Linked DNA regions of Homo sapiens: regions 2 and 3 are each linked to region 1. Evidence: fine-mapped expression QTL. A gene starts in region 1. Each other region holds a variant in brackets. All regions are shown on one strand. Distances are between the middles of the regions. Region 1 holds the start of LINC00900 (long intergenic non-protein coding RNA 900). Region 2 overlaps LINC02698 (long intergenic non-protein coding RNA 2698). Region 3 has its middle 6.5 kb from the start of LINC02698.

Region 1 (10,154 bases):
CTATTAACTCTGTATAGAAGAGCAAAACTGTATGTAAATGTTTGTGTAGGTGCATGTGTGTATGTGCACACATGGGCTTTCTCTTCCTTAGCAGACTGGGATAAATTTTTCAGGAGTAAGGAGAAAGTTGGGGTCACCTAGTCCAGAGAAGAGAAGGCCAAGAAATAGAATCAAAGTAGTCATTCAATCCAGCTCCTTATTGGCAGGCAAGACTTATGCTAAACTTATTACTATTAATAATAATGCCAGGCACTCTTTTAAACATTTTATATGAATCAACTAATTTAATCATCACAGTAACCTCACAATACCTCTGAGAGGTCAGTTATTATTAACCACACTTTTTAGATAAGGAAACTGACACACAGCTGAGAGGTTAAGTAACTTGCCCAAGGAACCAAGAGTCAAATCCAAACAGTCTACTCCAGACTCTCATGCTGCAAATGATGAGAAAATCTACAAGTTCTCAAGGGCTGACTTACAGAAATGGTTTAGAAATCCTCCAAATTCTAGATTCTAGAATTGTGTGGGTTCAACCCTGTCTTCCCTTCCTCCTAGGAAAACTTGCAGGCCTTGTGAGGAGTAACTCAAGATGGAGGATGTGGATTACTCCGATGTCTGAGAATTGAGCCTTGGAGGGGCTGAGGGACTCGCCATGCAGGAAGAGGGTGTCTGGGTAGTGAGTGAGCCTGGCCAGGCAATCTCAGGGCTCCCCAGGCCACATCTCACAATAGGTATTGGGTACACACTACTTCCACCCTGAATCCTCACTGGCAGCCTCCCTGGTCCCCAACAAACAGATGTAGTCATGGCATCTGCATTCATTGTTCAAGAGGTAAAAGATAGTTTGTGTTGCATTATCATTATTATTAATATTATTATTATTGAGTCAGGTCTCGCTCTGTCACCCACGGAGGAGTGCAGTGGCATGATCATGGCTCACTGCAACCTCGAACTTCTGGGCTCAAGCAATCCTTCCGCCTCAACTCCTGAGTAGCTGGGACTGCAGGAGCTGTAGTCCCATGGTGGCAGGGACTATAGCACCTGCCACCATGCCTGGCTAAGTTTTTCTATCTTTTGTAGAGATGGGGGGGGGATCTCACTATATTGGCCAGTTTGGTCTTGAACTCTGGCCTTAAGCAATCCTCCTGCCTCTGCCTCCCAAAATGCTGGGATTACAGGTGTGAGCCACGGCACCTGACCCACATTCATCTCCTTAAATAACAACCTTGGACCCTCTACCACTGCCTCTATTCTTTCCAGAAATCTCTCTCCATAGTGGATCACAGACTAACACTTATTATGACCTGTTTAGAGAGAATGAAAAAACTACCAGGCAAGTTACAGGTACATAGCTTAGTTATAACATATGACTTCATCTGGCTTATCACCCATGTCTGCCTTCTCAGTTTCAACCTGGTTCACTCCAGGCGAATAAGGTGATCATTTTGCCCACTTTGATTCTAGAGAGAAACAAAATTCCTTCCGGGGAGGTTTACTCCCTGAGCCAGCCCACTGGCAGAAGGGATCCTGCCATTGTTCAGCTGATACCCCATCCTGGCACTTCCCGAATGCTTATCCTTTCTCTGGCAAGTTAACTCTAGGCAGCAGCATCTCCAAGTCCCACCTTCATCTGAAGAGATCAGATCACTTTTCTTCGATTGAAATAGGCATGCAATTCTGACAAACATAAGACTTGGGAGAGGGGTCAGTTTCTACAAAGCCATGTTGAGTGTCTGTATTAGTTGTATTGGGAGAGCTTTTGCCCATGAGGTATTTCTTTTTGTTTTGAGTTTTCATCCTGTTTATTTTAGGAAAATAAAGATTGACTAGCCAGGTGCACCTCTCATCCTAAAGAAACACATTTGTCCATTATGTTTCAAAAGAGAGGTGAAATCTTCCTAGTTACTTGGAAGTCCTCTATTGGAGCCAAGGGCAGCAGGTCCAAAGTGGGAAACTAGACCTAGGGCCATCTACTGAAAATCTCAATCAGGTAGGAAATCTCAGGCTGTGATGGGAATGTGGATGGTCATTCTTCCAAAGTCCCATTTCCATTTTTCCCCTGTGTCTCTCTTTTAGATGAACAGACTTAATCAAAGATTGAGAGAGATGTGCTGGGATTAGATGCAGTTCGAGATGCAGCTGAAGAGTCTCATGCTTCATCTTTTCACTCCCAATATAAAAATCAAGGGAAATCCCATGGCGTGGGAAGAGATTCATTTGTCCCTTAAATAAACAAAACACAAAGCACTCAGGAATGTGAAGAAAAGAGCTCTGAGGAGATACAGTCATGAGGGGCTGCACGTGTAGCACCCAAAACATTCCTCTGGCTGGGTGCGGTGGCTCATGCCTGTAATCCCAGCACTTTGAGAGGCCAAGGTGGGTGGATCACAAGGTCAGGAGTTCAAGACCGGACTGACCAATATGGTGAAACCCCATCTCTACTAAAAATACAAAATTAGCCGGGCGTGATGGCGCTTGCCTGTAAGCCCATCTACTTGGGAGGCTGAGGAGGAGAATCGCTTGAACCCAGGAGGTGGAGTTTGCAGTGAGCCAAGATCATGCCATTGCACTCCAGCCTGGGCGACAAGAGCGAGACTCCATCTCAAAACAAAACAAAACAAAACAAAAGCATTATTTCTGAGTTTCTCCCTTTATCCCTGTCATACCTGACACTCAATTGTCCCTTTGGGCTCAAGACAGAAACAAAGGAAATTCCGTCTCCCACTTCCTCGAGTTATCTAGAGAAAGGCTATTCTAAAATTGAAAAAAAGCTAAATGGAAATGAAGAAAATACAAAAATTCACAATAATCTGCAGCTTAAAATACAGGTATTTGTGCAATAAATGATCCTAGTGATTGGGCAGGGAAGCCCAGCTTCACTCCACATGCTGTCTTTTGGGGTCTGCCAGAGGCTCTCTCTTTTAGTTCTGGAGCTGTTCCCCTTCTGAGCTCTGAGGTGAAGGTCTAGTCAGGTAAATGTCTGACAGTCCCTTATAGCTATTAGTAAAAAGGCGAGCTGCTGTCCCATCCCCAGGGAACGGAGCACCCCTTAACTTCCTCCAGGATCCCACCTATGAGGAGCGAATGCGAACAGTCCAAACACGCCATCTGTTCATTGAGGGGAGGGGTGAAAGAGCCTTTTCTTCCTAGGACCTTTGACAAATTCTGGCAGTGTCCACGGCACTGTAAAACAAAACAAGAGAAAATTCAAGCTCATGCTGCCAGTTCAGTTTATTTCGGTTTCTCCTTTTCTGCAGGCATCAGGTACATTATAGACAGGAAAATTGCATTTCAGAAACAGCACCTGTCAGAGCTAGGCAGGCAACACCCCCAGCCCCCGTCAGCACCAAATGCTTTTAATTAACTTTGGACACTTCCGTGCCTCGCACTTTATTTCTGAATGTTATTGAAAGTTGTCAGAACTTGTCTCACTTTTTTTCTTTTATTATTAATGTGTAAATACAATGCCTCAGGAGTGTTACTAAAACACAGAATCTAATCCCAGGAGATTAATTTATGAACGCAGCATAGGGTGAAGTTGCATCCTGGAGACTGCAAATTGATGTTGGTAAGAGCCACAAGCATCGGCCTCTCCAAACCCACGGGGATCCAGAAGGCCGAGGGGAGTGGAGGCAAGGAGGGATGGTGGGGGGAGAACGACTCTGCCGATTTTTGAGACACCCCCAGGAAATAGGACCTTAGGTTCCTCTTGGTGGGGCAGATGAGAGTAAGGCTACCTTTCTCTCCTGATGGGGCAGTGTCCCCTGCAAGTCCATCCATTAGCCAAGTCCATGGGCATTTATTGAGCACTTATGCCACATCAATCTATGCTCGGCTCTGTGGGAATCAAAACAAGCAAAGCAGTAGTTACTGCTTGTGATGACCTTATCTCTGTGGGGGTGGCGGGGGGAGTCAAACAGGCATTTGAAACTATTGGAGAACAAAGCCAGACTCAAGCAAGTATGGGATTGTGTGCAGCAGATTTTAAGTGCACAGTTCTGGTGGATAGGAGAGTCGGTGTGGACTGCAGTGGTCAAGTTAAGTCTGGAGCAGAGGAGTTGCTGGGTGGATATGCTAATCTCAAGCATAAGGCAGGGGAGTTAAGGATGGGGCGCCCAGGGTCCTTTGTGCGGAGCAGGGCAGCTTGGCTACGGTCATCTTTATTTCCTCGAAGGCCAGACAATCTGCGGGGAACGTGGGGAGGGCTCATCTGTTTAGAAGCTGTGCTTTAGGCAAGCTTGAGAAAACATCTGTCCATCCTTGTCCAAAGTGGGTAGCTAAGGACCCCTGGCAGAGAATCACCCATCTTGGGAGCTCTGAGCACCAAGGAGGAAAGCCCTCCGAATTTGAGCGGTGGTTCTCAATGGGAAAGAGAAAAGGAGTTTGCCCATAGCCAAGGGGAGAAGCTGGAGCAGGGTTAACCTGCGGCTTGGGGTTCAGTTGAGCAGGCTGGGCGCCCGGCATGGGAGGTAGAGGTAGGGAAGCTGGGCCTTCCCTTCGTCTTTTCTGCGACCAGGGACGGGTGGCACCTCGTGGTCCGCAGGAATACCTGTGTGGAGGGCTGGGGTTTGGCTCCTGCCGGCTCCTGGAGTATGCTGGGGGTCCACCCCCCGCCTCCCTGCGTCCCCTTCTCCAGCCTCGCCTCCCCAATGCGCTTCCCGCCTCTGCATCGCCGCCGGCCCCTTCACGCCTCTACCTTGGGCGGGTTTGGGGTAAGGGCCGCGCAGACCCTAAGGGAAGGCCCGAGGTCGCCGGAGCTCCTCCTCTCGCGGCTGAGTGAGGGTCTGGGAGGCCAGATGAAGGGAGCTGCTCGGCTGAGCTGCGGACCAGCGCGAGAGCAGCGGGCAGTGGCGGACCAGCGCCAGGGCAGGGCAGGGGTGGACAGAGGGCTCTCCCCACCCTTCCCTCCTCCAGTGAAAGTACCAGAAGAGATGGCGGCCGCTCCGCCGAGTGTCATTACCGCGGAAGCAGCAGAAGCCGGCGGCAGGAGCGGGCCCGAGAGCCCGCGGCCAGTGGCCTGCGCACCCCGCGCCCAGCGCCCCCGCCGCGGGTCATCAGTGTCAGCGTTGAGGGGTCCCGGGGAGCGGTTGCAGGGCGGCGGCGGCGGCCGGGTCATCAGAAGCACAGTGGAGCCGCCCCCTGCTTTGGGAGGAGCAAAAGAGCCTCTCGCTTGCCTCCCGCTCGAGCTCCTTCTCCTCTTCCTTTTCCTAGCGCTTCTCTCCCTCCCTCGGCGGGGTCCGCAGAGACAGCTGGGCAGGCGGAGGCTGCGCGCCTCTCGCACCTCCACGCCCACCCTCCCGCCGCCCCCCCCTCGGCCTGAAAGATCTGCGTCCACACCACCCTGCACCCAGGGCCCGTCAGGTTTTGCAGAAGTTTGCTGAGGGTCCTCACAGGGGGTCTCCCAGGGGAAGGGGTGGAGGGCTGGAGGGGCCGCGGTGGGAAGAGGTGGCAGACGCCGCCTGGCAACGGAGACCCTACCCTTTCTAGAAATTCAGAACGCAGAGAAACCAGTGCCCAGCCCTGCTCTTCAGCAAACGGTGTATTTCAGCCCGAGTTTCCTTCCGGGGGTTTGGCTGTGAGTGTGTGTGACCTCCCAGATGGCGGCACGGTTCAGATCCCATGCTCCCTCTGTTTCACAGCTGCCAGAGACAGACTCAGGGATTCCGGGCTTTGGAAGAAGGTCAGACCATGACCTCCTATCTCCTGTTCTCTTCTCCCCTCACTCATCACCCGCTGGCCACCCCACTCTCTGCACCCCACCATGCATGCTTACTGTAGACCTAATCACTAATTAGCCCAAGGGTTGACTGAGCGTGCTGGTGAGAGTAACAGGAGGCAGGTGGATGGGGAGGTGTGATGCTGCGCGCATAGTAGGTGCTGAAAACATGCAAGGGCACGATGCACATAAGCTAGACAGAGCCCTTGGTCCTGCTGGGTGCTGGGGGAGTGAGATTCAGAGCAGCAGACCATCAGCCGGGTAGACAGAGGTCATGGCCCCAGCAGCTCAGCCCCATTAGCTAGGCTGGTGGGAGGCAGCCAGTGCTTTTGAGGGCTCAGACAATCCCTGCGATTCAAGGGCTGCTCTTTGGAGCTGCTGCCAAACTAATCTCAGGCCTGCAGTCTTGGGCCTTTCCTTTAGTCTCAGCCCACTTGCTGACTCTGCCCTTCAGAGGAGGCCCACTGCCTCCTCCTGGGGCTGAGGATTAACCCCTAAAAACTGAGTTTTGTTTGCAGAGCTATCTCCAAAGCTGAGGGAGCCTCTGGAGTCTCCTGTTCTTGCTGCTTGTTGACTAGGGGGATCCTTGAGGTCAGATGGTGCTGGCAGCAGCTCAGCCCCTAGCCCCAGACACATATTCAGTCTGCAAATACAGCAGGAAATCTTTCTCACCTGGCCCAGCCATCAGTCCTGGCTTGCCCAGCCCTGCAGGGCACTGCCTAGTAGGCCTTTTCCTACAAGCTCAGCCCCACCCAGCTACGGAGCCTGCCCTAATTGGGCTAGGAGGGCACTAGCACCTCCCTTTTACTGGTAGGGGAAGTGCTGTACTCAGATGTCTGCCCACAGATTCAGGATCCAGTATGTTTGTGGCAAACACCCTTCCCTTGATCACCACTAAAGTGGTTCCATTCCTAGTGCTGGGACTCTGCCTTAGTTTCCTAATTAGCACTACAGCCCCCTGAGCTCCAGTCCCATCTGACTGAGATACTGGCCTCCTCTTGGGCCCTTTCCCACCCACATCCCAGGGAGTGGAGCCTGTTCCTCTTGGCTTCAGGACACTACTGAGATCATGGTTTGCCAGGCTGCTCATTCACAGCCACAGCTGTGTTGCTTTTCTGCCTTTGAGGGTCTTTGCTGCCAGCCCCCCACTAATTGTTGGCCTCCCCTTTCCCCATGGGTACCAACTGCATGCTGAGTCAAGCTGAAGATCCCCTGCTCTACTAACTCAGTCTGCCCCCTATAGCCTGTCAGGCTCCCTGTACTGTCTCTGCATCTTCTCTGGCTTGATGGAGAGCAAGGAACAACAGTGAGCTTTACAGTTCCTTCTCTATTTATGTATTCTGCATTATAGCCCTCTAGATTTCGAACCCCTCACCTGGGCTGAGTACCTTACCTTTCAGTAGCCCTGATAGATGAGGCTCTTCTTTGAGAATCTGAGGGGCGATTATGAGTGAGAATCACTCGTAGTGGTTATACCACTTAATTGGGTGCTTTCTTGGAGACAGCTACTGTTCTAGGCACAAGGTAACAGTGGTGAGAAACCAGCAAAACAACCCAAGGTACAACATGAGAGAAGCTATAACAGAGGCAGATGCTAGCAAGAGAGAGGGTGAGTCGGGGAACCTCTGACCTTAGACTTCATCGCATCCATTAGTCCCTCCCAGTCTAACCCCAAGTAGATAAAGTGGTCAGGGGAAGGAAAGGGAAGAACAAGAACAGAGCTGAACTGGATACAGGGAGCCAGTGTGGGTCGGGAAGCACCCAGATTTCCCACTGCGTGCTTTGTGCTGTGTGGGTTGAGGAGAAAAATAACCCTGTATTTGACTACCCAGAGCTTAATTGTGATGGAGGTAACAGAGTCTTAAAGTAAGTAACTCTAATAGAAGGCAGATGATAAAAGTGCTATAATGGGTGTAATCAATATATTACTAATATATGGGGAAGTGGGCACTTTGCTGAAAAGTTTTGAGGGCGACTTCATGGAGATTTCCTTGATGATATATCGTTATTAAACATTACTCTCAAATAACCTGTATCTCACACATGGAGTAGGATGGTAAATTATTATTTGCAGTGGATATTTCTATGTTTGGGCACCCTGATATCCTCCCTGGCCACTTTTTTGGTAGTGATAGTATACCTTTTTTTTTCTTTTTTTTTGAGATATATTTTCCATGCAACTCTCAGCACCTTGAGTTTGATGGGGCTCCTTCCGTCATTCTTCCCCTTCAGGTGGAATTTGAGACTCAGGGGTAAACCCAGTCATCACACTCCAAGGCCTAAGGTTTGGCGATTGGCTCAGGGATGAGTCCATAACCCAACTTGCCCAGTGAGTGTCTGGCTTAGGACTTAGGTGAATTGTTGGGGGATGAGGTAGAGGAAGAGCAGCCTTTTCTCTGTTGGACTTGGGACTAATACAGCTGCTGTCATCTTGCTGCCACCAAGCCTTGAATGACCTGGAGCCAGGACATAGGAAGCCCAGTCAAGGGATGGCCAGAGAGAAACTTGACCCTGGAGAGAGTTTCATGAGCCACCAGCTAGATTCCCAAAGCCAGGCCTAGCCCTGGATTTCTTAATTATACAATCCAATAAATTCCCTCTATTTAGGCACTTTGGTTGGATTTTCTATGACTTGTAACTTATAACCAAAAATGATGTAAGTGATATATGTTTATTGGGCCCCTCCCATGTGCAAAGCCCTGTGCTCAGTGCTTCTAACTATAGCCTTTCATTTGATAGGTAGCTATTACTCTCTCTGTGTTCAGACAAAGAATCAGAGTCTCGAGAGGTTGAGACTTTGGGAGATAGGAAGATTACCCTGGGACAGAGATTTCGGAAGCTCATCAGGGCCTTAAATGGTCCCAGCCTTCAGGGAAAAATGTCAAGAAAGGAGATTTCAGTAAAATAACAAGTTCTTTTTCCAGATTCTCAGCCCTCTTCTTTCCACTCTTCCTGGCATGACTGTTGGCCCTCTCAAGGCATGAGAAGAGGCAGGACTCATGTTGTTGGTAGATATACAGATTCTGTGGGCTGGTAAATTTGTGGTTCTGTTTTCAAGGCTAAGGTTATTGCTGTAAGACATCAATATCAAGGGACACCAGGTCACCTGATTGGGGGGGAATTGTATGAGGATAGCAAGAAGCTTCAAATAATTATGCCAGCCTGCTGAACCTCATGCAGTCTCTGATTGGCACAGGAAAGTTTTCTAATTCAACTCTCGACCTGCCCTGCTCATGCCAGGGGATCCTCCGGGAAGGGTAGAGTTAATGACCAACCTCCTTCAGGAAAGAAAAAGGCTTCAACAACAAAACCCAACAGCACGGAGGGAAGAGACGCAAGTTACCAGCCACAGAAGCTTAAAAAGGAACCCACCCACAGCTCTCGCTACAAATGCTTTTAGCCACACGTTAAATCTTCCCTCTAATGGCACCCCCTGTTAAACGAGATATGTCACCCGACCTGAGGAGGCTGACTTGAAAGGCAAATAGTTGGAAGTGGTTCCACACGTTATTAGTGAGAGCTGTTCTCACATTTCTGGCAAAAATAATGGAGCTGAGGTCTGAAGAGATGACTAATACCTCCCCATTACTGACCCAAGGCCGGGCATCACATTGTAATCCTGGCCACTCGGCTGGCCCTTCAAGCATATTTTTCAGTGCTTGTCCTCTGGGTGCTTTCTGCTGGAGGACTCTGTTAATGTTAACCTGGGCTGCCCAGCCATTGAAATGAGGAGGCTTTTCCTTCACAGGACAGCTTTCGTCTCCATGGGGGCAGGGGAGGAAGGGCTAGGGCCACCCAGTGCAGAAATGATCCACCCTGATGACTGGGGTGGGTCCCCTGCCTCAAGGAAGAGCTGCATTAGTCCTGTCTCAGACGCCACACAGGAATCTGTCCTGAGCCTAAGTTTATCCAGAGTCCTATCATATTCTTTAATAGCCTTTACAGGCATTTTACAGCCCTTCCTGTCTGGAAGTTCTCTGGGTTTAATCTCAAGCTCTCCTGTTAAGATGTTAACCTGTGTCTCCTTCTTTTCCTCCTTCAATAGAATAGGAGAATATTAGATGTATACATGTTAAAGAGTGAATTTAACAAAAGCTGACATTTACTGAGAGCTGACTACGTGCCAGTTGCTGCACAGGGTGCCTCGTGTGCATTGGCTCCTTTAATATGTGCACAGACACAGCTATGGCTTGGGTTCCCAGTGACCTTGGGTTGATGTCTCTATCTAATGGACATTTTTTACTCCTCATTTCCCTTGACCTTGCAGTGATAGTACACCTTCCTGACCACTCTCTTTCATTGAAATGCCCTCCTCCCTGTTCACTGGGAGATGATGCTCCTTTCTCCCAGAGCATAGTCCTATGCTCCTGGATTCCTTTCTTCTGTCTGGGGGGCTTTTCCCCAGTCTCTGTGGCAGGCTTGTCCTCTTCTGCTA
Region 2 (10,154 bases), 53 kb before region 1:
AAAGTTGAAGATACATTTTTCTGCAAACCAGCAACTCCACTCTTAGACATTGCTCTTAGGCATAGAAGAGCTCTCATATAAATGCATAAGAGACACACACCAAAGGCATCATGGCTGTGTTGTTTGTGATAACCGAAAAAAAAAAAGAGAGAGACATACAAAAAGATAAAAGGAAGCAACCTAAATTTTCATTATCAGGAGAGTGGATAAAAAATAAATAAGTTGGGGCATATTCATTTAATGAAATTCTTATTTTTATTTATCTTTATTTTTTTTTTTTGAGACAGAGTCTCGCTCTGTCACCCAAGCTGGAGTGCAGTGGCACAATCTCAGCTCACTGCAACCTTTGCCTCCCAGGTTCAAGCAATTCTCTTGCCTCAGCTACCAAGTAGCTGGGACTACAGGCATGAGCCACCAAGCCTGGCTAATTTTTGTATTTTTAGTAGAGACAGGGTTTCACCATGTTGACGAGGCTGGTCTTGAGCTCCTCACCTGAAGTGATCTGCCTGCCTCGGCCTCCCAAAGTGCCAGGATTACAGGCGTGAGCCACTGTGCCCAGCCTCATTCAATGAAAGTATTTATAGTAATAAAAATGAATGCAGTTGAGCTATGCATATCAACATGGATGAATCCTACAAACACACTGTGGAGCTAAAAAAGCAAGTGGCAGAAGAATATATACGCCATGATACCACTTATAAAAGTTGTAAATGATGCAAAACCATATTATATACCATTTATGAATAATACACAGCAATATAAACACCAAATTCAAGGTGGTCAAATTCAAGAGAGTGGGAATAGTGGGTAGGGGATATGGTTTGGAGAAAGGGGATGTAGTGCATGGGCATTTAACTTTATTGGTGATGTTTTATTTATGCTAGGAGGTAGACACAGAGTATCATATTATTCTTTAAAATTTTTGAATATTTGAAAATGTTTCATAAGAAACAAAAATATAAAGTTCCAAAGAATGACAACTGAGGACCTTGCCCACTTTCCCCAGAAATGTCAGAATGTGTTGTGTGTGTGTGTGTGTCTGTGTGTGTGTGTGTGTGTCTGTGTGTGTGTGTGTATCTGAGATGGCAGAGGTGGGAAATGACAGTTGGGGTAAGGGGCCATGGAGAAAATCTCATATAGACAGGCCACACTTGGCTCCTAGGAAGTTTTCTAGGTTGCATACTTATTCAGTAAAGTTTCCTCTCTTCACATAATGTTTGCCTACGTATGAAGCTAAATATTCATTGAGTAAATTAGCCAGTTCAAATCTGTGGTACAAAAAGACAATTCCTTCTAATTACAGGGATGCCAGTTAAAAGATGCCACACTGTGGGATCCTGTAGTCCCAGCTACTCGGGAGGCTGAGGCAGGAGAATTGCTTGAACCTGGAAGTCAGAGGTTACAGTGAGCCAAGATGGCACCATTGCACTCCAGCCTGGGTGACAGAGCAAGACTCCAACTCACAAAAAAAAAAAAAAAAAAAGAAAAGAAAAAAAAAGCCACACTAGGCTGCCATTCACTGCCAAGAGAGCCTTAATAAAATTCTAGCTATGATTCAGATTCAAAAAGGTAAAAAAAAAAAGAAAAAAGACACTGTTATTTTTGATAATTAAATATTTACCAGAGCTGAGAAAATAAGTCATACTTATGTTTCAAGTATACCAAAAGCTCTTTTTAAAAAGTCCCAATAAAGAAATTGTTGCTCTCACAGCTTTGCTGCCAGGGATTTTCTGGGCTAACATCAGTATCATGGCCAACTTTCCTGGAGCATCTGCAGCCTGGCAGTGACCAGTTCTGACTTCACATGCAGGCAGTGCTTAGGCATCCATTCCTTCTAGAGACATTATTTAGTTTATAGCTACTTTCCTGCCTGGTACTTTAAAATAGTTCCACTGTATGTGATATGGTTTGGTTGTGTCCCCAACCAAATCTCATCTTGAATTCCCATGTGTTGTGGGAGGGACCCGGTGGAAGGTAACTGAATCATGGGGGCAAGTATTTCCCATGCTGTTGTCGTGATAGTGAATAAGTCTCATGAGATCTGATGGTTTTAAAAAGAGGAGTTCCCCTGCACAAGCTCTCTCTCTCTTTGCCTCCTGCCATCCATGTAAGACATGACTTGCTCTTCCTTGCCTTTTGCCATGATTGTGAAGCTTCCCCAGCCACGTGGAACTGTAAGTCCAATTAAAACTTTTTCTTTTGTAGATTACCCAGTCTTGGGTATGTCTTTATCAGCAGTGTGAAAACGAACTAATACAGTATGTTTTCTCCTCTGTCCAATTCAATTCTAAGTATCATGATAACAGAGCTGTCTTTTATAGGGAGTGGAGATGGATGGGAGAAGAGATAGATCATCTTTAATCCAGTCCTCTCTGTCAAAGGAAAGCTCAATGACTGCTGAATTAATATGTTAGTTGGAGTGGTATAAATTGCACCCTGACTTGAGATCCAGCTCTGATACTCCCCAACGAAGACTTTGAATGAATTACTTACACTCTCTCGGTCTCAGTTTTGCTTCTGCAAAATAGGGATGATCCATAACTACCCTATAGGCTTCTTGTGAAGATCCAAGGGGGTCATAACTGCAAAAATTGATTTTATATTGTAATTTGCTAAACAATTGAAAACCGTTATACAAATATGAAATGTCATTATTGATTACAATGACATGTGCAGGAATGGTAAAATTAATGTAATTTGCCCCTACTCCTTCTTACAGTAGACATATAGGCATTGTCTACTCATCTCTTTGCATCTAGGATCTGTTACGCCTCCCTCTGCATGCAGTGGTCAGCATTGGAAACATCCTGTGTCCCCTCTCTTCCTGGCCTTTCATGGGACATGCTTCCAGGACTACAGCTGTTTGGTCCAGGGATAGTACTGCATCTGAGCTAGGCCAGTCTAAGAACTTTTCTGGAATTTTAAAAACAAAAATTGAGGAAGTCAGTCAGATTCCTCTTTGGTTAAAAATGCTATAGAATAAGAAATTATGAAATATCCTAACTGTAGTCCATGACTTGAATTTTACTATATTCAGTAGTACTGTACTATTCTCTGCCCCACTCAATCACACCACAAGAAAACAAAACTAAACAGAAAGCAGTGAGTTGAACACAATAGACATGGATGTTGCTCTTATGTAAACGTCTAGAGATACAACTTGCAGGGCCAGGCAGAGAGCTCCATGGGTCAGGATCCTAACTTTCTCCCTCTCCATCCTCAGTGCAAATTTCCAGCTCCAGTCCACTCATGTTTTAATAAAGATGCAAGAACTTCAATGATCTATTTGCATTCCAAGCTGTTGAAGGCACAAAAGGAAGTAAATGTGCATGTCCCTCCTTCTGAGAAGGCCTAACCCTCTGCTTACATCTCATTGGTTAGAACCTAATCACATGGTCATGCCTAGCTGCAAAGAAAGCTGGGAAATGTAGCTTTATAGCTGGAAACCATTGCTCACTCCCCTGAGTAAAACGGATCTTGTCACTAAGGAGAAAAGGACGATGCATGTTGGATTAGGCTACTAGTAATCTCTGCTATGTGAAGTAGGTCTGCTACATGGAAGAAGCTGGTCTGTTGCAGCATTTTTACATTTCCCACTTCGGTTATTCAATTTTAGTTCTGATTATAGGAAATATTCAGGATCCTCTTAATAAATTCCTTCTTGGCCAGGTGCGGTGGCTCACACTTGTAATCCTAGCACTTTGGGAGGCTGAGGTGGGAGGACTGCTGAGTCCAAGAGTTCAAAACCAACAGAAGCAACATAGCAAGACCTTGTTTCCAGTACAGAAAAAAATAAAATAAATAAATACATGAATAAATTAATTCCTTCTTTTTTTCCTTTCATTAAAAAAGCATAAGCCGGGTGTGGTAATGCATGCCTGTAATCCCAGCTACCCAGCTACTCAGGAGGTTGGGGCAGGTGGATCGCTTGAACCTGGGAGGTGAAGGCTGCAGGGCACTCCAGCCTGGGTGACAGAGTGAGACCCTGTCTCAAAAAATAAAAGAGTATAAGTTACTTACCACGAAAAGTTGTCCTGATATTACTTTCCTCTAAGACCCTTTAACAGCTCCCTGCAACACTTGCCTTGGGAAATGGAGGTATTTACTGGCCTCCAGCAATCTTTTCCAGAGTCCTTAATCCACTCACAGAGTCACATTAGAAACAGATAGGAAAGAACCCTAACAGGCCAACCAGTAACTTTAATGACAGCATGGGCTCCTGTGTGAGTTCATTTGCCACCATGCTGCAACGCTTTACTCTCTTGCCCTTTAAGATACTCTGCTGCATCTCTAGGTCCTAAATCCAAGCCTCCCTAGCTTTGTCTTTGGCTCTGGGTCCAGAACATTGCAGAGAACTTGGAATTGGTTTCTGCTTTGTTGTTTCTTCCAGTGTTGTCTGAAAGCATTGTCCTTTCCTTTACTAAGAAGTGCTGGGAGAGGACTTGTGCTCCAGTGACTCAAGCTGTAAAGCTACTTCCTTTCCTCCTGCCTGGCAGGACATTAGGGGATATTTCTAAGTCATGAGATGGTCTGCCTGGGTAGTGCCAGGGATCAGCTCACCCTCTAAATTTGGTAAAGAGCTAGGTGGAAATAAGGGTAGAGGCTTTCTTTTGGAGCTTCTCTGGAGAGTTTCCTATACCACAGTCCTGGTGATTTGTAGCTTGAGAACTCAGTCAACCCTGAGAGAACCTGGAGGTGAGTTTTTGGGAGGAGGGCCAGGCATACTGAGTATTATTTTTTTTTTGGCAAATCCAGTGTCTTAATCTATTCAGGTTGCTGTAACAAAAACATAGACTGGGTAGCTTTTAAACAACAGAAATTTGTTTTTTTTATAGTTCTGGAAGCTGGAACATCCAAGATCAAGGTGCTGGCAGATTCAGTGTCTGAGGAGGGCTGCTTCTGGGTTCACAGACAGCTGCCTTCTCTCTGTCCTCATAGAGTGGACAGGGAGAGTGAGCTCTCCAGGGCCTCTGTTAGAAGGGCACTAATCCCACTCATCAGGGCACTGACCTCATGACTTAATCACCCCCCAAAGCCCCCATCTCCTAATACCATCACATTGGGGGTTAGAATTTCAGCATATAAATTTTTGGGGCACACAAACGTTCAGTTTGAAGTACCCAGTAGCTGCATAGAAATAGAGCCCACCCCCAACCCCATCCCAGAGAGGCTGGAGGTGGAGCTCAGAGCTGATCATGGGAGATTTGCAAGGGCAGGTCATTGTGGTTAGTCGACGGACATTTGAGAACACATTTCATGCTGAGTCTGTGGGTAAAAAAATACTTCCCTATGAGCTGATTTTAGTGCTGCAATGGACCTCATCTCTGTGAGTCAAAA[G/C]GTCATCCTCCACAGCCATCATGTGACTGCAAATCAGAGAAAAGTGGAAACAACGGGCCTCCAGAAGTAATTTTATACACCTCCTGCCTCTATTGCATTAAATCCAATAGACTGATAGCTAATGATTATTGAGCACTCATTATCTGCAAATACCATGCTAAGAGAATTATCTTATGCATTCCTCCCAACAACCTTCTGAGCTTGTTTTCAGTTTAGCAGGCAGGAAAACTGAGGCCCAGAATCACTCATCAGGTTGACAGAGGTGGATGCCAGTTCAGCCTTAGCTGGATTCCCAAGCCAAGCCTCCTGCCCACCATGGACTGCAGCCTTCTGCAATGTGCTTAAGAGTGCCTTAAGCACCTGAGCACAGGGTGCCTCAAACTGTTGGTTTCTAGATGCCCCTGGCAGGACCATCTCAATCTGGACATTGCCATGAGCAGCTCTAGGGAGCTGTTTCCTGCCTCCCTTGCTAATAAGTCCCAGTGTCCCATCACCCAAGCCAATAGAGTGATCCACTAGCACTACAATGCAGGCTCATTTACATTTTACATAGTCTAGTGGGCATATTAAAAAATTAAAAGAAACAGGTATCCCTGTAACACAGGCTGTCTACATAAATAATCACATTACAATGGTACTTCAGTGCATAGAAAAAAATCATTCAAACAGAATCAATTCATTGATACTGATATTGCCAGTGATGTGTTTTTAATACTAGAAATGACACATGTTCCCCAACACATGTACTATAGCATAGCAATAACATTTTATGGGATGTGATGGTTAAAGTGAAATGTGGTTCTATCAAAACAATAAAGCTGTGTTGAATACAAAAATAGTTTACACCGCTTTCAATTTTTTTTTTTTTTTTTTTTGAGACAGTCTCGCTCTGTCACCCAGGCTGGTGTGCAGTGGCACGATCTCAGCTCACTGCAAGCTCCGCCTCCTGGGTTCACGCCATTCTTCTGCCTCAGCCTCCCGAGTAGCTGGGACTACAGGCACCCGCCACCACGCCCAGCTAATTTTTTTTGTATTTTTTAGTAGAGACGGGGTTTCACCGTGTTAGCCAGGATGGTATCTATCTCCTGACCTTGTGATCCTCCCGCCTCCACCTCCCAAAGTGCTGGGATTACAGGCGTGAGCCACCGTGCCCGGCCACTGCTTTCAATTTTTAATTTAAATTAAATAAAATTAAAATTTCACTTTCTCAGTAGTGCTAGGCACATTTCAAGTGCTCAGTAGCCGCCTGTGGCTTGTGGCTACTATGTCAGACGGTGCAGGTTGAGCATCTACCCAAAATTCATCATGATGGAAATGCACTTTCTGTGTCCTGAACAAAGAGAAGAGAAGTCAGACTGGAGGAGAGGGTCTGTGCAGAGGCGAGGTGGAGAAAGAGGCTGGGATGGTGTGAGGGGCTCATAGGAGAGGGAAAGCACTGTTGATTTTCGAAACGGAAAACCGTATGACGAGAATGGCGCTTTGAGAAGATTCGTCTGGATGCATCGAGCAAAGTGGGTGGTAGGGACACAGATTAGAAGCAGGAAGACCAAATGCATGGGGATGGGAGATGATGAGGCCCTGAACAACAGTGAGGGTGGCCAGAAAATGAAAAAAAAAGAAGTACCTGAGAAAGATGATGAAGAGTTACTATGACGAGTCAGTGAATGAATAAGGGGAACAAGAAATGGGGAAGAGGTGAAGATGACCCTGAGGTTTTAAGCCTCAGACAACGGAAAATGGTAACACCACTGATAGAAACAGGGAAGTCACGGGCAGACATGCTGGGGCTGGGCGGGGTGGGGTGGGGGCGGGGGAGGAGATGTAGGATCAGTTTTGTTTTGAACAGGCTGATTTTGTGGTAATCTCTTCCACGGTTTCGCCTCATTTTTTTTTTTTCTCTCCTTCCTGACTTTTCGTCCTCTCTCTTTCTCGCCCCCTCCTCCCCTCTTTCCTCTTTTCATTTTCCCCTTTCTTTCCTGCCCCCTTCTTCTCTTGATTGATCACTTACTTATCATGCACTAGAGACAAATAAGTTTAATGGGCATTTCCCAGGCCTGAGGAAGAACCATTGAGAGGGGTCGGGTGCACGTCTTTGTCAAAGACAACAAAATAAATAAAACGTCCCTTTTTGCTGTTCCTGGCGTAACTGTTGGAATCTGGCCTGGTATGGGGAGTGGAGGTGGCAGATGAAAGGAGAACAAAAACAGTTCATGAGTATTGACTGCATGTGTCAGGCACGGTTCTAAACATTTGTGACCAGCATCTTACTCAAGGGCATTAATTCCCATTTAGCAGGTGAGGAAAGTAAGGCAGGGGCGTGATGAAGTGCCTCACCTAAGGGAACACAGCTGCTAGGTAGTGGGGCGGGATTTTACTTGCCCAGCGTTTCTGAGTATCCGCCCTGAGCTAGGTAAAAGTGGCGGTCACCTTCCCTTCTTGAGGGGTACCTCACTTCTCCAGATCTTTCTGAAAGGCAGGCTCTTCGAAGCCCCTGGGAGGGTTTTCCTTCCACAGGTGGGCTTAGTGACCCAGCAGGGCCTGGAGCTTATGTGGGAAGCAAAAGACCTCTTTCCTCCTCCCAGTAGAAGGGAAGGCAAAATAGGAAACACACTCCTCGAGTATCTTTCCTCATTGTTAATCAGGTGACTGCTCCCAGGGATCTGTTTGCTGTAAATGCTGTGTGTTGATGGTGTTGTTCTAATATAGTCACCCACGTGCAAGTACATCCCAGTAAAAAAAAAAAAAAAAAAAAAAAAAAGGCCCTTAAGTGAAATAGGAGATGGGGGGAGGCGATGGAGGGAAGAGGAGATGGGAAATATTGTACTGCTCCTGTACAACAGCTCAAGGGATTTACTCTAGGCTGTCAGCGCCAAGTGAATATTGCTTATTCATGTGCAATCTAATCTTCCCCTCTGCCCAGAGGCTGAGGGCAGCAGGGGTGACCTGGTTGCAGAGGGACAAGGAGAAGATGGGGTCGGAGGGGGGTGGGCTTTCCTATGAGTGCGTGCTCAGGAGGGCTAGTGTTGGAAGAAATTGTTACTTGAATGGCTAGGATGGGTGCAGGGGGCAATGGTGGGGAGGGGGTACATAGGGGATGAAGATGGACTGGTGATCAGACACAGGACCCCTTGGTGGGCTGAGGAAGTGGCGAGGGTTGTGTGGCTCAAACATCTGGGGGATGGGAATTCCAGGAACCCCTCCAGCGTGCTCCCTTGGGAGGATGGTTGAGCCGCAGATTGATGCACACGCCCAGGCAGAGAATGTCTTAATAACCCACTCGGTGGGTGATGGATTATCAGAGGAGGAGCGGCGGAGCTCCGGCTTGGCCACCCCGAAGCTCCGACTCGATAACGTGATAATTCACTCAGGGGCACGGGGAAGAAGATTTCCCAACTGCGGCTAACCAATGTTGAAGACCTGAAAACAGCCACTTGGGACTGCTTTTATGTTCAGCTGTCGGCTTAGAAGCAAATGTCTAAGAGAACCTGGACACAGATCAAACGAATGTGCCGGGAACCGTATGCACTGCACACATCTGCTATTACGTCCCGCTGAGGGCCTGCGTGCCCAGCCTGCTCTCCTCCAGTCATACAGGAGGGGGGAATCGGGAAAGAGGAAGATCCCTCGGAAACACCTGATAGGGCCCATGCTGCAGCTGGCCTGGGTTTGTGGAGCAACTCTTGCACAGAAACATCATGGAGTGGTGGACCGTCACCTCTGTAGGGCACAGTGATTGAGTGGGAAAGAAGACCAAATGGCCCTTTCTTTGACCTAGTGGAGGCCAAAGGGCTGGTGGCCAGAGGCCTGCTCTTCCCACAAGGGACTGGTCGTGGAGAGCCTGGGCTGGAGGAGAGCCCTGTCTTCCATGGGGGAGGGAAGGGCTCCCTAGAGCCATCAGGTGAATGGAAAGAAGACATCTTCCCTGGCAATCTGTCTGTTTTTCTTTTTCTCCACCTTCTACCAAAGGAATAACCTGCAGTATTTTTGTTTAAATCAAAAGCTGAGTTGGCTTGGGGGCTGGAAGCCTGTTGTTATTCTAACCATGGAAAGAGGTACGCTGCCACCTTCTTCAGAACAGAAGGTGTAATAAGAATAATAGAAACACCAGCAGAGATCATTATTGAATGTCTGCCATGTGCCATCACAGCCACACTTGATCCTCAACAGCCTTGGGCACCGGCATACTCCTCCCCCAACCTTAGAAACACTCATAAATACATTCCCCAGGATCAAAGAGTCTGGGAACTGCTACTGAAAATAAGCCCAGGTAGTTTCTGAGCAGGTGTGTGCTACTTTGGATTGGCTCTAGATGAATTATTAATTTACTAATACCTTTATTGGCTGGCTTATAGCAGGTGGGGATGAGAAACAGTAAAGCAACTGTACAGGTGAGAGGACATGCGTGACCATGAGGTTCAATACTGCAGCAAAGCCACGGAGGTCATCCACAGTAAGCTGTCCTCATGGAGATATTGCAGGCTGGCAAAAATACACAAGGAAGGTAAATAATATTAGACTCATTTTACCTAGGAAGAAACTGAAATTGAGAGAGGTGGAACAATTTTCCCAGAGTTACACAGCAAGTAAGTTCCAGAAGCAGGATTTGAACCCATGTCTGTTTGGTACCAAAACTACACATCCCAGCTCAGAGAAAGGCATTTGCAACACCATCCTGAATACAAGGGAGACATTCAGTCCATCAGAATCCACACTTTCTGATAAAGATTGCACTGGGGATGAATCACAATAGGGAATTGTTCTATTGCTTCTAATATAAAGTGTCTTTATAGTACTGGAAGGTCATTTCCTAAACCAAT
Region 3 (10,154 bases), 110 kb before region 1:
TTTTTTTTTTTTTTTGAGATGGAGTTTCGCTCTTGTCACCCATGCTGGAGTGCAATGGCACGATCTCAACTCTCTGCAACCTCCGCCTCGCGGGTTCAAGCTATTCTCCCGCCTCAGCCTCCCAAGTAGCTGGGATTACAGGCATACACCACCATCCCTGGCTAAGTTTGGTATTTTTAGTAGAGATGAGGTTCCACCATGTTGGCCAGGCTGGTCTCAAACTCCCGACCTCAGGTGACCCGTCCACATTGGCCTCCCAAAGTGCTGGGATTACAGGCGTGAGCCACCACACCCGGCCTTGCTTTAGTTTTAAGTTGTGGGAGGAAAACATGTTTGTTTGTTTGTTTTTAAATATTCAATTATTACAAAAGAGTTTAAAAAGTCTTTGAAAAATGTTCCATGTTTGTACAAGCACGTATGTTTATCTATATGTCTTTTCCTCAAGACATATACGTTATAATATTTCTAAGAAAACTATAATGCTGCTTTACAACTTTACTTTTTCATTTGTCTATTATACTTTTATTACCTGTTACAGTTTACAAAATGCTTTAATTCTCACATTAACCCATCAAGTTAAGTGAGATGGGCATTATTTTTATTTATTAATTTTAATTTTTATTTTTTTGAGACGAGGTCTCATTCTGTCACCCAGGCTGAGTGCAGTGGTGGGATCATGATTCACTGCAGCCTCAACCTCCTGGGCTCAAGCGTTCTCTAGCTTCAGCCTCTCTATCAGCTGGGACTGTAGGCATGTCCTCATGTCCAGCTTTTTTTTTTTTTTTTTTTGGAGAGATAGGATCTCACTATGTTGCCTAGGCTAGTCTTGAACTCCTGGACTCAATTGATTTGCCCACCTTGGCCTCCCAAAGTGCTAGGACTACAGGTGTGAGCCTCGTGCAGTGGCCAGAATGGGCATTAGTATCTCTAGTTTTCAGGCAATGAAACAGATTCAGAGAGGTTAAGTCATTTGTCTACTGTTACACAGCTGTTTATTGCTAGAGTCAGAACTCCAACCTGGGTATTTTGGATTCAAGTCCAATACTCTGTGTTATCTGGTTGAATCCCCACAACAACTCCATGGGATGAGCACTATTATTTCCCTCCTCAGTTCACAGACGAGGAAACTGAGTGACAGGCAGCTTAAATAACTTGCTCAGGGTCATCCTGCTAGGAATGATAGATGCTGGGGTTCAAACCTGAGTCTGCCTCCAGAGTCTTCAATCTTCACTTCTACACCACACTGTCACTTCCTCTGTGCCAGGAACTACTAGACGCTCTTCATGTATGTTTAGCTCCTTTGATCCTCACGACAACCCTGTATCAGGTACTAATGACAACATTGCACCACAGGCTCCTTCACCAATGTCCCAAGCTCAGAAATAAGGCATCTCCCCACAGTGCTGGGAGACTTCCAAGGCCACAGGACCTACCGGGATATGGAGCAAATTTATGAGTGGGGCAAAAGGAACACCCAGGCAAATCTTAGTAATAATAACACTAAAGATGCTACTACTACTAACGCTAATAATAATACAAGCTATCAATAAGTTAGTGCTTACATACCAGGTCTGGGCTAAAGGCTTTACATATTATACCTCTTTGTTTCATTTTTATAACAACCCTGTGATGGAAGGATTGTCATCCTCATGTTATAGATGGAGAACCTAAGGCTCAGAGAGGTTCAGTGTCATTCCTCAGGTCACGCAGCTTTTAAGTCGAAGAGCCAAGATTGGCCCCAGGCCTATCTCATCCTGAAGCCTGGCTTTGTTTCTGCCCAGCCTGTATCTTGTTTTTCCAGACCAGTTGGGGCATCAGCATCTTCTTTCTTTTTTAATTCCAAGGCTTGGGACAACTTCAGCTGCCTGCCTGGGGAGGAGTGGTCAGTCTATGGCGATAGCCTCTTCCATTTCAGAAGAATAATGGTTCCTGTCACGGATCCAATCTGCTCCCAACTCTCCTGTAAAAGCAGCCCCCTAGGCTATTTGCGTTTATAGGCTGGCTCGGCTGGAGATGTTACCAGGGTTGGAGCATCTCGCTCCCTCCACCCCACCTTGAACTCTTACAGCATTTGAGATGCATCTCTTGGGACTTTGAGCCTTCCTCTTATTACAGTTAGTTGGGTTCTTGTCAGTTGACTTCATAGGGTATAGGCACCACTAAAAACCCCAAAGCAGGTAGTTTAGAGTTTGCAAATAATAGGTGCTAAACAAATGAGCCCTCCAGTACCACATTGACTGGAGTTTTTAGAGTCAGGCTTTCCTGGCAGGAGCTCTATGTGTGAAACATTCTTTACAATCAGCCTGCATTTGAGGCTCCATCCTCAAATGTCCTTCCCTCTCATGGCTTGTGCTGGAGAAGGGAGGCTGACTTCCTGCCAACCCTCTCTCCTTGGTGCTTCTGCATAGGGGGCTTCCTGGTTCCCACCAGCACCTTGGCTGTCCACTGCAGGTTGCAGAGGATGCCCGTGAGACAGTCCTGGTAAAAATTCAAGGTTCGGGCCAAGGAAGCTGCTGCCATTTTGGTTTCCCAGCATTCTCAGGGGCCAAAGGCGTGAGGCGTTCAAAGCAAAACAGCTCAGAAATGCAGTCTGCAAGCTGACAAACAGCTGTGCATTTGTGCAAGTCCAGAAACAAAACTGTATGTATGTATATACCTCCCAAATGCTGTTCTGTGAAGCAGAGGCCAGATGCAATTTCTCCCTGGTTATATGGGGAAGGGGAGAGCTGGAATGGAGTTTAACTCCACTCTGGAGTGCTAAGTGCTATGGGACGACTTGAGACCTCATGGTCTGTAGTTGTTGGGGAGGGGCAGACTGCTACACTCCTCCCTGCCCCTACCATCCACCGTCCCCCTCCCCTTGCAACTCCTCCCTGCTGCCCCCAGGGAACCTTCCTGATTGCCCCAGGCCCAATTAACAAGCCTTTCGCTGTTTTCCAGTGCATCCTGGCACACATCTGTCAGTACACAGAATCACAATGTGCTCTTTTAGGATGTGTTTCTCCAACAGACAAGGGTCAAATCCTGCTCATTTTCCTCCTCCAGGCAGGGAACCTCAGTGAATCCTGTTAACGAACAATGACTTAGACCTGGATTCAAATCCAGACTCTGCTACTAACCAGTGTGACCTTGTGCAACTTAATTGACTTCTTTGAGTCTTAGCTGCTTTAGGTTTAAGGTCATAATAGTGGTTCCTACATCACAGGGTTGCCATGAGGAGTTAACGAATATTACAAGTATAACTGTTCGTCATTTCCTTCTCTGCGCTCAGGGGAGATGCTATCTGAATGATCCCTGCCCCTTTTTTCTATCCTGATCACCAAGTCCCTAGCACCTTGCTCTGTAAAGTTTTGACCAGCTTGGTACAGGTACCAGTTCCTAGAAAATGCTGCCGCTAAGATCTAGACATGCCCTGCTCCAAATAGTTTTCCTGGCTAGGTCTGATGGCTCACACCTGTAATCTTAGCACTTTGGGAGGCCAAGGCAGGAGGATCGCTTGGGGCCAGGAGTTTGAGACCAGCCTGGGCAATATAGCCAGACCATGTCTCTACAAAAACATGAAAAAAAAAAAAAAAAGCCAGGTATGGTGGTACAAGCCTGTAATCCCAGCTACTTGGGAGGCTAGGATGAGAGGCTCTCTTGAGTCCAGGAGTTCAAGGATGCAGCGAACTATGATTGCGCCACTGTACTCCAGCCTGGGTAACAGAGTGAGACTCCCTCCCCACCATCAAAAAAAAAAAAAAAAAAAAGGTGTTTTTAGGTGTATAGTGCCGTAGCGTTAAGTACATTCATATTGTTGTGCAACCATCACCACCATCCGTTTCCAGAACTCTTCATCTTGCAAAACTAAAATTCTGTACCCATGAAATACCAACTCCCCATTATTCCCTTCCTCCAGCTCCTGGCAAATGCCATTCTACTTTCTATCTCTGAATTTGATTACTGTAGGTACCTCATATAAGTGGAATGTTTGTCTATCGGTGACTGGCTTATTTCTTTAGCACAAGTTCCTCCAGTTTCATCCATGTTGTAGCATGTGTCAGAATATCCTTCCTCTTTAAGGCTGAATAATATTACATTGTATGTTATTTACCACATTTTGCTTATCCAGGCATCTGTGGATGGAGACATAGGTAAAGTTTTAAGCTCCACGTTGGTGTAGCTTTCCTTTCCTTCCTTTCCACAGGTAATGTGGAATTGACTAACTGTTTATCCATTCACGTGTTGTTACATTCAGTGAGGGCTCATATAGCATCTCTAGTTTACCAAGCTCTGTGATAAGCTTTGTAGATGATGAGAGAAATAAAACAGTACTCCTGCTCTCAAAATGCTCTCAGACCTAGCGGGGAGCTAGTTCTTTAATTAGGGCTCAGTGAGGGCTGTGTAGAGGAGGGGTGGTGGATTTCTACGGCAGGGATGATGGGGGTGTGTACCAGGAAAGACTTCACAGGAGGTGACATTTGAGCTGTGTCCTGACAGATGAGTAGGTGTTTGCCAGGCCAAGAGGCCTGGGTAGGGCCTTCCATGTAGGGGAGCAGTCCAGGTGGGAGGGAGCAGTGTGGAAGGAGGGTGAGATAGCAGGGTCCCTGGACAGGCTGCAGGCAGTGCTAGTGACTGGGGCACAGTGGGGGACAAGGCACAGAGATACATGAGGCTCCTGGAGCAGGAGGGGGCCAGATTAGTGCAGGGTCCTGTTTACCACACAAGGAGCTGGATGCTATAAAGGAACCAGTGCTGGAGAAGCCTCATGGTGACGTTTCCAGGGAAAGACAATTGAAACCATGTAATATGGTTTGGCTGTGTCCCCACCCGAATCTCATCTCGAATTGCAATCCGAATTGTAACCTCCATGTGTTGGGGGAAGGAACTGGTGGGAGGTGATCGGATCACGGGGCAGTTTCCCCCATGCTGTTCTCGTGATAGTGAGTTTTCACGAGAGCTGATGGTTTCATAAGTGACAGTTTCCACACTCTCTCACCTCATGTAAGAGGTGCCTGCTTCCTCTTCCACCATGGTTATAAGTTTCCTGAGGTCTCCCCAGCCATGCGGAACTCTGAGTCAATTAAACCTCTTTTCCTTATAAATTACCCAGTCTTGGGCATTTCTTTATAGCACTGTGAAAATGGACTAATACACCATGCTAGGTGTTCTCCTGCATGGAAGGGCTAGTGATCCATAAATGGAGGATTAAGGAGAATTAACTGGGTCCCTTGCTTAGGCCTAAGTGAGACGATCTTAGAGGTGCCTGTTGTGTTACTGGGGGCTGGTGTTAGTGTCAGTGGTAAGGAAATGGATACCTAAGGAATACCGCCCAGCTGCACTCTCAAAAACTCACAAGCTCAAAAATGCCCATTCTGGACCAAAGTAGCTAACAGAGTCAGCTCCAGGTTTCAATTTTGGAGGAAACAGGAAATCCATTGAATTGGAAATATTGTCAGACTGAACAATTAGAGGCAAGCTGGGACTATCAGAAATTTACTGAAGAGAAGAGGGAAACTTGGAGTTGAGTCAGAATACCTGATTCAGATCCTGTTTCTCTTAGTCACCAGCTATGTGACATATGAAAAATTGCTTGACTT[C/G]TCTGAACCTGTTACCTCATCTGTAAAAGAGGGATGACAAGACCCACTTTACTTATTTTTCATTAGGAACTCAGGAATAATCCAAATAAATGAGATAGTGTGGGTGATTACAACTGTGAGGCATCGTTACTGCATCATTGCCCTGAGCCCCCTTGCCTGGCACAAATGAGGGTCTGCACTGGACATGAAAGGTGGGGTGGCTTGCAGAACATAGTCAGGGGAGCATGAAGGGAGGTGAAGGAGTCGAGCTAGGACTTCTGCAGCACAGATGTGGGTGAAAAATCCCCTATCCTTGGGTGTCGGTAGCAGAAATGTACTCAGAGGCTGCTCTGGGATGTGCTGGTAACAGGGCCTGGACTGAGACCCCGTGGTTGTGTCAGTGTCGACTTTAGGTGACTCTTCCCCCTTACCTGAGGATGCTGCTGCCTAGGATCTCTCTCTGTGGACAGACGTAGCTGAGGTCACTGAGAGTTAGTGCCATGCCAGCTGGTCCCAGGAACAGAGCACCAAATCCGAATTCAGGAAGGAAAGCCCAATTCCAAGTCCTGGCACTGTACCAGTTTCCTTACCTGTGACTCTGAAATTATACCTTCCTTATCTGGTGGGCATTACACGTGAAAGTGCTTTTTAAACTGTAAAGAGCTGAAGAAATGCCATTTCTTGTATTGCCCTTCCCCTATCAGGCAGCTAAAAGACGGTGCTGTCTTCACACACACACACATGGTAGCGGTTCTCACCAATTCTGGGTCTATGGGGCCCGCCCATCCACCCAGCCTCGGCCGCCCAGGACGCCTGTAAAAGCTAAGAATACATTATAAAACTGCTGTAAGGTTTTATGAGTCCTCTTTCCCAGTGACCGATCTTGGCGCTGTGAGTCATACCAGCATTCGTATATGGGACTTGGAGCGTGGGGCCGGGACTAGGAGAACAGCTGGGACAGGGAGAGGTAGCTTCAAGGGAGCCAGTGGAGTGGCAGGATTGTGTGGCCTCAAAAGGGTTCAGCTCGGGGTGACCTTGGCTGACTCTTCTGCCGCCTCGATTGGGCCATTTGGTTTGATCCCAGAGATGGGAAGGAAAAAGAAAGAGTGGGGAGCGGGGACAAGATGCAGTGGTACAGCACAGAAGTTTGGAGTCAAACAGGCCTCAGCATGGGTCTCACCTCCTCCACTTTCTAGCTGTGTGGCTAGGGCAGGCCATGCAGTGTCTTTAGTCTTAATTTTATCATCTGCAAAATGAGGCCAATAATAGTGTGTATGGTTGTTCATATGAAATAATGGATGTAAAGCGCTTAGCAAGGTGTCTGGAAGAAAGTGATCAATATTACATTAAAATATAATACTTATTTTTTTGATGGTTAATAATTTAAATTTCAAATATTATTTTTATGCAGTGATTAGTACTTTGTAGTGTCCAATAAATATTTTCTGAATAAATAAGTGAAAGGATGAATGAATGAACAAATGCACAAACTGAAAGAGCTGAAAAAGAGGAAAACAAAGGAAAGAAAAGAAAACCTTGCTTGAACATCACCTTCTCTACAAAACTCTCTCTGGCTTTTATTTTCATCACCCGCAAATTGAGAGTTAGAGATTAGTTTATCTTCAAGGTCTCTCCCAGCCCTCATATCTGAAGACTCTTGATTCACTACTTAATTCATGCCTTGACCGAATATTTATTGAGCATCTACTATATGCTCAGCAGTATTCTAGGTACGATGAAAAAAACACACGAAACCCTTGCCCTCTCAACACTTGCTTTCTAGTAGTGGCAGAGGTGAAACACACAAAAGACATGATGAATAAATCAGTTAAATACTAAACTAGAAGTCATTAGGTGTTAGAGAGAACTAGAAAGCAGGGTAAGGGAGGTGGTGAACACTGAATTCTGGGGGAAGGGTATTGCAGTTTTAAGTAGGGAGGTCATGGTAGTTCTCCACTGACATGGTGCCCTTTGAGCAAAGACTCAGAGGTGGTGGAGGAGTGAGGTGTGCTGATATCTGGGGAATCTAGACAGAACAGCCCATGAAAAGGTCCTGAGGCAGGAGCTTGTCCTGCATGTTAGAAGACCAGCAAGGAGAACCCTACCCCATCTTCTTCGACAAAGAAGGCAGACTGGACCAGGGGAGGCCTCCAGCTGTGGTTCATCAACCTTCTTCCCCACCTGTACCCGCTCTGTTCCTGTCCCCACTTTCTCTACGTCTCTCCTGGTCAAGGCTCTCCTCCCCGAGAACAGATGGTTTTGAGGAGGACGTTTCTTTTTAACTTGAATAACTTAAATGTTATCAATTCCTCTGCTGGGTGGAAATGAAACCCCAAACCTCTGGTTGAGCAGGAGGGATTGAGGAGTGGCTGTTAATCATGCATTTGAAATTGGAAGAAAGAAGCAGGTGAGGAAGGTGGCCAGGGCTAGGCAAAGGCAAAGGAGATAGGCTCTCTGGCGAGGCTCGGAGACAGAGGCTGACACCTGCTTCATTCTGCCTCGTGGTGGGAAGAACATTGGAGTGGGAGTCAGGCCACCAGGTGCAGATCGGACCCTGGAAGCTGGGAAACCTTACTCAAGTCATTTCACTCTCCAGACCTCTGTTTCCTCCCCTCTGTAATTTCAGGGTGTTGAACTTGGAGATGTCTAATATTCTTCAAGTCTAGCGGTCATGTTTCTATTTTTCCCATAAGACTATAGACTCCTAGAAGGATAAGTCAGATTGTCTTTCTGTTCTTGGCGTCTGTATCACAGGGATGGTGTCTGATGGGTAAATGGAGGGCTTGAGTCTTAGGGGAAGGAGCTTCCCTACAGCCTGCAGCCTTTGTTGAAGAAGCTCTTATCAAGAGATAGCCTTAAGCTATAGCTCTGTGCCTGCTGTGGCCTCAGACATCCTGCTTTTCTGAGGATTGACCTCTTCAGCCCAAGGGACCTTCTATCAAGGGGTAGTTGATAGGAAGAATCAGTTTGTTTACTTTTCATTAACTTCTCTTAAGTGGGCTGTGTGTACAGGGAAAGGATGCTGGGAGCTGATTAGCTGTGCAGATAGGCAGATAGGCAGAGACCATCTTAGGCCAATTCACTTCTCTCTTCCTCACTCCTCAGTTCAGAGCCATGGCTCCACAAAAGCCTCCCAGTCCCCCTCCTGGGAGTCTCTAGGCTTGCTTTGGTCTCACCTGGAATCCAGCTGCCCTAATAAAGGGAACCTATGTTCCCGCATGCGTCTCCACACTCCTCCAGAGCGAGGCCTGCTGGCTGCGTGCAAGACCCAGTAATCGCCCCACTATTGATCTGCGGATGGTAATTCTCAAGCAGCCATCGGTGCTCTGCAGGGGGCTGCATGGTGGGGATGTGGTGATTATGGAGCAGTGGCCTGGACTGTTAAGGAGTCACTGGGAAGCTTCAGTGGCCCTCGACTCTGCTTGGCATTCCCAAGGCTCATTGAGGTGGTGCCTCTGCACTTCTGCCCTCCTGAGCAGTGGCAGCAGGGAGGATGGAAAGCACTGTGAGGAGTTCTACTCCTAACCCTGATTGGTTAGTGAGGTAGGAGGCAGGGAATACAGGAAGTACTGTGGACTTTGCACGCACAGCTTGGCAGCACCTCTTCCCATCAAGGAGCTGAGGTGTCGCCAGTGACCTAAGCGCCTTCCCATGGGAAAGTAGCACCAGATGACTAAACCACAACCAAGTGCAAAAGGCGCCCGAGCCACTGACTTAAAAGAAGTAGTGAACATAAAGAAAATCATGAAAATTAGCTTCAGCCCCTTATATACATGCCATCAATCCCAAGTAGAGAAATCCCTCAAACCCTGGCTTCTCTCCCCAGGGAGGGCTCTGAGATACACTGCAAAGATGCTGGGCCCAGAACTTTAGGTGTTCCCGTGACATGTTGTGAGACTTCTGGGGAGAAGCTGTGAGAGGCTGTTAGTTCCTTCTCACATTGCTATAAAGAAATATCTGAGACTGGACAATTTAGAAAGAAAAGAGGTTTAGTTGGCTTACAGTTCTGCAGGCTTTACAGGAAGCATGATGCTGGCATCTGCTCAGCTTCTGGGGAGACCTCAGGAAATTTACAATCATGGCCAAAGGCAAAGGGGAAACAGGCATGCCACAGGGCCAGAGCAGGAGCAAGAGAGCTGGAGAGTGGGAAGGAGCCAAACACTTTTAACCAACTAGAGAACTCACTCACTATCATGAGAACAGCATGGAGATGGTGTTAAACCATTCATGAGAAATCCACCCTCATGATCCAACCACCTCCCACCAGATCCCACCTCCAACATTGGGGATTACAATATAACGAGATTTGGTGGGGACACAGATCCGAACCATTTTAGAGACTTAAGCAGGCTCTCAGAGGAAGAGAGGCTGGCCTCCGCCTATCCACTTATCGAACTAGCTCTCAGCATCCTCTCCTTCCTAACCATCTAAGTCTTGCTTAAGTCATTTGAAAATGGAAGGGTACTGAAAGAACAGGGTAGAAGAGAGAATTATGTGAGAAAGCAGATGGGAATGCTTTATAAACCACAAAGCACTAACAAAAGTTAGCTATTGCTATTGTGTTGTGTTCACTTTTAGTAGCTACCAGTAGGTAGC

The links. PIP is the estimated chance that this variant, and not a neighbour inherited with it, causes the effect.
Region 2: its variant is fine-mapped to the expression of LINC00900 in whole blood (TOPMed, PIP above 0.99).
Region 3: its variant is fine-mapped to the expression of LINC00900 in nasal epithelium (TOPMed, PIP above 0.99).

The regions. Positions count from the first base shown.
Region 1 is chr11:115,755,067-115,765,220 of GRCh38, forward strand. LINC00900 (long intergenic non-protein coding RNA 900) reads right to left here and starts at 5,134. Exons shown (of 3, transcript NR_034148.1): 1 at 4,964-5,134; 2 at 3,075-3,186; 3 at 265-2,226. The region is part of intron 2 of LINC02698 (long intergenic non-protein coding RNA 2698); the gene reads left to right. RefSeq lists enhancers at 1,815-3,014, 4,194-4,728.
Region 2 is chr11:115,702,443-115,712,596 of GRCh38, forward strand. The region is part of intron 2 of LINC02698 (long intergenic non-protein coding RNA 2698); the gene reads left to right. Among named protein-coding and RNA genes, the nearest start is that of LINC02698, 48 kb to the left of the region's middle. The variant G/C (reference allele first, on the strand shown) is at 5,338.
Region 3 is chr11:115,647,741-115,657,894 of GRCh38, forward strand. No RefSeq gene overlaps it. Among named protein-coding and RNA genes, the nearest start is that of LINC02698, 6.5 kb to the right of the region's middle. RefSeq lists an enhancer at 8,431-8,932. The variant C/G (reference allele first, on the strand shown) is at 5,580.